Homo sapiens: one gene and its partner. The protein of the gene in region 1 interacts with the protein of each later gene in a biochemical or structural test. Each region holds a gene or a part of one and is shown in the gene's direction. Other genes may lie near its edges.

What was found. The genes of interacting proteins can lie anywhere in the genome.
Region 2: of the proteins of MAP3K12 (region 1) and MAP2K4, one has a biochemical effect on the other in vitro, tested with the Homo sapiens proteins (one study listed by BioGRID).

Annotation. Positions count from the first base shown.
Region 1 is NC_000012.12:53,492,729-53,496,668, reverse strand, and holds part of MAP3K12 (mitogen-activated protein kinase kinase kinase 12), read left to right. Parts: intron 1-1,731; exon of another isoform or gene 1,732-2,970; intron 2,971-3,598; exon of another isoform or gene 3,599-3,654; intron 3,655-3,940.
Region 2 is NC_000017.11:12,019,136-12,022,735, forward strand, and holds the start of MAP2K4 (dual specificity mitogen-activated protein kinase kinase 4), read left to right. Parts: upstream 1-1,741; 5' UTR 1,742-1,751; coding exon 1,752-1,866; intron 1,867-2,187; exon of another isoform or gene 2,188-2,392; intron 2,393-3,600. UniProt on the Homo sapiens protein: Dual specificity protein kinase which acts as an essential component of the MAP kinase signal transduction pathway. Essential component of the stress-activated protein kinase/c-Jun N-terminal kinase (SAP/JNK) signaling pathway.

The DNA of each region.
Region 1 (3,940 bases):
CACAATTCCACCTACCTAGAAACTGTTGTTATACTTTGGTATTTATTCTTCCAGATTTTTAAAAATGCCCATCCCGTTGAGGAACTATATTTGTTAACATCCGCTGAACTTCTTCCTGGTCTATCTGAGGTCCTAGGTAGGAGGGACTCCTGAGGCCCATCCTACCCTGCTCTTGCCCTCCCCTTCCCCGAGGCCTCCATGGGTAAGGCTGAGGGGTGATCCAGGGCCACGTGATCAAAGGGAGGATCTTAGCAGTACAGCTGCTTAAGAGAGCAGATTCCAGAGACAACTGGCCAGGGAGTGAGGATGGGGTGCAGAAAATCAGGCCATCCCCCTTAGTCCAGAGGAGACAGAATGGCAGGATTTACAGAGGAGGGACTGGTGATCTGGTAGAGGAATGACTGGGGACTCCAGCACAATCACTAGCACTGTGACCTGGTTCTACTGGAACCTGAAATCACAGTTTATCCTGGGAAAGCAGAAGGTCAGAGACCAAGTCTTCAGCCTCTCCAGGATCCACAAAGACCTGGTGTCCAGCCAACCAGGAAGACAAAGCAAGGAGGAAACATGCTGCTCCCTGCACCCCCTCTATCACCCTACTTAACCTTCACTACCCCCAGCAGGGTGGGTTGGGCACCACAGAGAGATTACATTCCTTAAACTAAGTGGTGGCAAAACTGGGATTCTAGCTCTGATCTCTCCAAATCTGAAGCTGATTCTTTTTTCCTAAATAGTACTGTCCCTCCCTTCCCTGAACCCCTTCACTGCCCACCCCACTGGAAGTGTGGCAGCTAGGGGTCTCAGGGCTTGATTTACCAATCAAAGACCCGAATTTAGGGGTGATCTCCAGTTTTCCCCCAAGTTCTCAGGGGAACTCATTTCTCCCTCATGAGGGCACTAAGAAAAGCAATAGTTCTTTTCCTCTTGGGATCCTGGGGCCAGGACTGCGGATCCTGAAAAATGGAAAATAAAAACAAGCTGCAGGGCACAGTGGTTCACACCTGTAATGCCAGCATTTTGGGAGACCTAGACTGGTGGATCATTTGAGCCCAGGAGTTTGGAACCAGCCTGGGCAACAGAATGAGACATGGTCTCTACAATTTTTTTTTTTTTTTTTTTTTTTTTTTGAGATGGAGTCTCGCTCTGTTGCCCAGGCTAGAGTGCAGTGGCGGCGGACTACAGGTGCGCCCACCACTACGCCTGGCAAATTTTTTGTATTTTTGGTAGAAACGGGGTTTCACCATGTTAGCCAGGATGGTCTCCATTGCTGGGATTACAGGCGTGAGCAACTGCGCCTGGCCTTTTTTTTTTTTTTTTTTTTTTTTTTTTGGAGACAGAGTATTGCTCTGTCGCCTAGGCTGGAGTGCAGTGGCTCCATCTCGGCTCACTGCAGGCTCCGCCCCCTGGGTTCACGCCATTCTCCTGCCTCAGCCTCCCGAGTAGCTGGGACTACAGGCGTCCGCCACCACGCCCAGCTAATTTTTTGTATTTTTAGTAGAGACGGGGTTTCCCCATGGTAGCCAGGATGGTCTCCATCTCCTGACCTCATGATCCGCCCGCCTGGGCCTCCCAAAGTGCTGGGACTACAGACGTGAGCCACTGTGCTCGGCCTTTTTTTAATTTAGTCTGGTGTGGTGGTGAGTGCCTGTAGTCCCAGCTACTCAGGAGGCTGAAGGGGGAGGATCACTTGAGCCCAGGAGGTTGAGGCTGCAGGCAGTGAGCCGTGATCATCCCACTGCACTCCAGCCTGGGCAACAAAGCGAGACCCTGTTTCAAAAACAATACGAGCTGCAGCCAAGGGGACAGGAGGCATGGCCACGATTGATCAGAGACCTTTATCCTCTCAGGGTTTCAAAGCTTGCAGAGGTGGAATTAGGACTCCAAAGTCTTGGGTCTCCTTTCCCTTTGAAGACTCCCCTTCCTACCCCCACTCACGAGAGAAAGGGAATCATTCTCCTTTTCCTGAGTAAAAAAATGAGGTCTCAGACAGTGGAGAGCACTCAGTGTGAGAGCCCAAGATTTAGGCAGATGACCTGGCCTCTGAACTGAGCCCCTAAGACCACCAAACAGCTTAGCATTGACATTCTGCTGTTATACAAGAAGGAGCTAGAGAGAATTCAGAGAGTTTACCTGCCACAGGCTTCCAAAATCTCAGGCCAGAGAACCTAGAAGGTGGGATAGATGGGGGGTGACTTCCTACCCCACTCTACCCTGTAGCCTCCTTATGGAGTCACTTTGGGGCCACCAGCAAAGCACTGAATTAGGGCCTGTTGGGTGTCCAAAGAGCCTCCTCCCCTGGCACATGTATGGCTTAGAGATCATTCTGTCCCCTCACCCAATGTGAGGCAGAAGCACCATCAACACTTGGTAGATATGGTTGACAGTGAGTGACAGAGAGACCCACCCTCCTGTCACATTGCTGCCCTTCCCCCATGCTCTGCATAATTGATAACGGAGAGACAGCTACCCTCCCCCAGGGTGACTGAACGTCTGGGCCAGGGGCTCCTAGCCATCCTAGACGCCCCTCCAAAGCTCTGGCGCCAAGGCCCAGCCAGGGGGCAGTGGGACACAGCTGGCAGGTCAGAAATAAAGGAAACAAAAAGGGGTATGTGTGTGTGTGTTGGGAGAGAGGAATCTCCACTTTACTATAGCTCCCAGGGGCAGCAGCTTTCCCTCACTCCAGGTCAATGTGGAAGAGCCGTCAACTAGCCTGAGATCTTTCCCTTGGTCCCATCTCCTACTTCTTCAGCTATCCCCACTACCGTAAAAGACAAACAGGTGAAATGGCTTCTCTCCTTCTCTCCCCAGCTGCTGGCCCTGGATACCAGAAGGGCCTCTGGGGAAGCCTGGTGAACTGGAGGGAGGCTCGGCTGGCTGCAAGTGTCTCTGAGCATGTCACCCTTTCTATGCCTAAACCACCTAGTCGTCAAACAACCAGATGACGGCTGAAAAATTCCTTTAAAAAGCCAGGTGCTGTGCCTACTCAAAGCTCGGCTTCTAGACAGAAAAGGAGATGGGTGTTCTCCGTGTTTCTCACTCCCCTTTCATCTCCATTTTCTCAGGGTCCTCTGCTTTTCCAAACAGCTTTTCAAGCCATCCTTCTCGGGGTTGACTCCGCTTGACGCTGCTCCGGTGTCTGTATATGTCTCAGCTCCTTCCTCCTTCCTAGCTGTACCTTTCGCCTTTTCTGTGCCCTGTCTCCCTTTCTCTCATTTCCTGCTTTCCTTCCCTGTGGTACTGCACCCCCAATGCCAACCCCACAAGTCCCCTCCTGCCAACACCAGACGCCTCAGCCGAAGATCTCTCTGCATGCGGGGGCAGGGGAAGGAAGGGAACACAGATGGGGCAGACCGCTGGGTGGGGGTCCGCACCTAAGATCCTCGCAGCCATCCCGGCAACCAGCCACCTGGGCCGGCCCAGGTCAGGGGCGGGGCCCAGGCACAGCCCCGCCCCCACGTCGCGCTCACGTGATCCGGGGCTAATCTTGTCCTGGTGACTTCACGCGCCGCCTCAGGCCCAGTCGTCATGGTTACGCCGCAGCGCCCAGCGCTTCCCCCAGCCGGCCGTGTCCCTTCCCTTTCCCCACCCGGACCACCCCCTTCCGCCGCCGCGGCCCCCGCCCCAGCCACGCGCCACGTGACGGCCGGGAAGGAGGTCGGGAAGGGGGAGGGGGCGCTGTGGCCGTAACCCCTTCCTCCCCACTTTCAGCGGTCCTGACTTGGGCTTCGTCCTTCCATTGCTGGTGACCAAGCTGTCCAGGGCACGGCCCCGGCTCCTCCCCGAGGGCTCCAATCCCGCCATCCCTCCCTCCTGGCCTGCCAGGCGAGAGCGTCCCAGAGTCTTGGGCCTTGTTTCTGGGTGGTCCAGAAGCGAAGCCCGGGGTTGCGGCGGAGTGGGAGGTGGTGGGGGCGGGGAGGGAGGTTGGGGGGCAGGCAAAATC
Region 2 (3,600 bases), on another chromosome or scaffold:
GTATTTTTAGTAGAGACAGGGTTTCACCACGTTGGCCAGGCTGGTCACTAACTCCTGACCTCACGTAATCCACCCGCCTTGGCCTCCCAAAGTGCTGGGATTACAGGTGTGAGCCAACATCCCCAGCCTTCTTTAATATATGTTATTTATAATATTGGATGTGTGTGTGTGTGTGTGTGTGTGTGTGTGTGTGTGTGTGTGTTTAAATTAATTTTCTAGTAGTTGCCTAATCTGTAGTGCTGCTTCTAGGATTTCTATTAAAAGAATATATATTAAATTCTTATTAAAGGCCAGTTATGATGGCTCATAATTAAGATGCCCTAGGAGCAACAAGAGCTGGGTGGGCTACTGATTTCCAGATGGGAATCTGGCCATGTTTATAAGACCTGGACTTGAAGATATTGGGCAGCCAACGAGGCCCATGGAGGAGAATTCTGGCGGGCTCTCCACTGAAGTACACCTACCTGCTCTCACCTTCAATTTGCCTTTAATGCCTCTCCACTTGATGTTTACGGCTAGCCACTTTTAGGATCTGAGCCATCAAGATGATGGATGAAATTGGGTTTGGAACAAGAAGGCAGGGCTATTTTGACCCAGGACACATTTCCAACATGCTGTGAAGAACTCTCAGCATCAAATAACATCTGGGTGGAAGAAGTTTTGGGAAAGAAGTCTAGCTGTAGATCACACAATGCTTCTAAATGGGAGAAAATGTCCAGCTCCATGGCTTAGATTCTTTGGGAAGTAGGATAACTGGCTATTCCATTTTAGGCAAGGCTGCCTGGCCAGAAACCCATGTCTTACCATTTCGAGTACATTATGGTTGGCTTACAAATCGTAGCCTCATAGAGAACTTTTTCTTCTTTTAGCTACTGTCTTCCTAAAATAAAAGTCTCTGTGCAAAGCAATGGAAGAAACCTCATATTGTTTTTTGGGGTTGTCATTTTATGTAACTTACAATAATGACTACGGCTCGTCTTATACAAGATGTAAAGGATTTGGGAGAGGGAATCCAGTGTGCATTTAGGGGAAGATGGTGATGTAGATAGCATATTTCAGGAGGCTGGGAAGTGTCGAGTGCTTAAATATATGCTTCTCAAATTTAATGGGCATACAAATTACCTGGTGGTATTATTAAAATGTAACCTCTAATTCAGTAGTTTTGGGATGGGTCCATGGACAGCACTTTGGTTAGTTCCCCTTGGGACTCCCCTTTCCCCTCAGAGAAGTGTAGAGGGTTGGGGTATTGGGCTTAAGAGGAGTTCCAGACTGTAACCATAGCTCTAGGTAACTCCCTTCTGGAAGTGATGTGTTAGCGACTGGAGGAGAAAGGGATCCCTGGGATCCTTTTCAGCTTTACTATTCTGATTTGGGGTTCTGAGATTCCAACAAAGTGGACTTTTGGGAGTCACAGACCTCCATGGGAATGATGAAAGCTGCGTACCTTCTTTCCGCACAAATGCAGGCCCACCTTTAATTCTGCAAACCACTTTAGGCCCCGCGGGCCCGCAGCCCTGGTCCAAGACAGCTGTCTGCTTCACAGGTCGCGCACCCAGAGCCGGGCGGTTCTGCAGCTCAGCATCTGGCCCGGGCTGCGCGTCGGGCTCTGGCGGGGGCGTGTCAGGAGGCGTGTCCGGGGCGTGTCGGAGGCGGGGCCAAGGCGGGGGTAAGCCTCGCCCCTCGGCCGTGCGAGAGGCCGAGCTTGCTGCATTGCAGCCGCCGCGGCGCCGCTCGGCTCTTCACTCCCAACAATGGCGGCTCCGAGCCCGAGCGGCGGCGGCGGCTCCGGGGGCGGCAGCGGCAGCGGCACCCCCGGCCCCGTAGGGTCCCCGGCGCCAGGCCACCCGGCCGTCAGCAGCATGCAGGGTAAGGAACGCGGCCGCGCCGAGATCCCAGCCCCCTAGCGCGGCAACCCGCGTCGTCGCGGCCTGCCCCAGCGGACGCCCCCGGACCCGGCTGAGGAAGCCACGGCAGCCGCCGGCTTCTCCCTCTCTCCCTCCCCGGCTTCCCGCCCCGCTCCCGGCCGCCTCCGGCCCGGCTTGGATCCGGGCTCCGGCCCGCATAGGCCCCGGCCGCGGCCTCTGCCTGCGCTTGGCCCCTGGGCCCTACCGGGCTCTCAGCAGGCCCGCAGGGCCCACCTGGTCCGGGACCGCCCCCGCGGCCGTCCCCATCGCCCCCGCCGCTTACCTGGCGCCCGCCCGGCCCCCGTTTCCGGGAACGCGCCGGCTCGGGGCTGCGGCGGAGCGGGAGGGGCGTCGGGCCTGCCCCCTGGTCCCTGACGCCGCTCAGGTAGGCGGCGAAGACAGCGGCCCCGGCCGGCGCCCCTCGGCCCCGCCGCCGCAGTGGGCCCCGCTCAGGGCCATCTTGGCTGTCGCCGGGCACAGCTGGAGCCGGACCACCGAGCTGACCTCGGGCTACGGGGGCCTCTTGGAACCTGCGTTTTCAAACTTTTGCAGGGTTTCTGTGCGCTGGAAGGGATGGGGGTGGGGGGCGGGTTGCCCAGGCCTGTGCCACCTGTAAGGTAGGTAGGCTGCATTGGCCTGGGAGAGGCATTTTGTTCCAGGCCAGGGATTTCTGTGTTAGCATTGCGTGCAGGAAGAAAAAAAAAAAAAAAAAAAAAGAAGACTTAATTTGGTTTAAATGGAGAGATACAGGAAATAGACAGGGGTCAAAGTGATACTGTAGTGTCTGGACATTTGAGGCAGCTCTGCTAATTAATGACTTTCCCCACTGGGAATGCTTATTAGCTGTGTATGGCTTTTGACAGGGGGTGTTGTGAAAATACCAGGCCAGGCCCGAGCCTGTTAGGGACCATTTCCTTAAATTTACTGGGGAATTTTGAGTAGTAATGCTATTTTTAAAACAGGGAATCTCAGAACTCTCTTGACAACTTTAGCAAACTGCTTGTGTTGAATTATTAACAGAATAAGGGTTGGGGTACCCTTGGTAGTCAGTGTGACCATGGTTACTTTTTGATTCCATTCCTCTTAAAGGGCTTCTAGCATTTAGTTAGGTTCAACAGACATTTATTGAATAGTTCATGTTTATAGAGCATGCCATAATTCAGAAAGAAGAGACAGGATTTTATTTATCTTTACATCCCTGTCACCCTCCCCATGAAATAATTTTAATATACATAAAAACCAGTGATAGATATATAGACAGGATGATGTCAGAGCTTAGAGGACACTTTCTGTGCAGGCCCTCAGATAATTCATTCAAATTGAATTAGTTATTGGATGCCCACTGTGTTGCACAGCACATTATACTGATGAAGTATAAGATTGACTTCCTGACTGTACAGCTTTACAATTTAGGTGGTGGTGGTTGGGGCGAAATGAAATGGCAAAATGACAATTTAGGATTGTATTTCTTGTTCCAGATGGGTGACTTACAAAGCTTATAAAAACAAGGTGATTTGTTTGTTTGTTTTATTGGTGGGGAGGCTGACAGTTTGAAATAGCTGGATACAGTGTGTTTTTTTGGTTCAAAAAATATTTATTGAGCATCTGCATAAAACGCTCATGCTGAGTTTATAGAGAATTGAACATCTCTAACTGTCCTCATGGAGGTTATCCCCCTGTGAAGATGGGGGAGGGA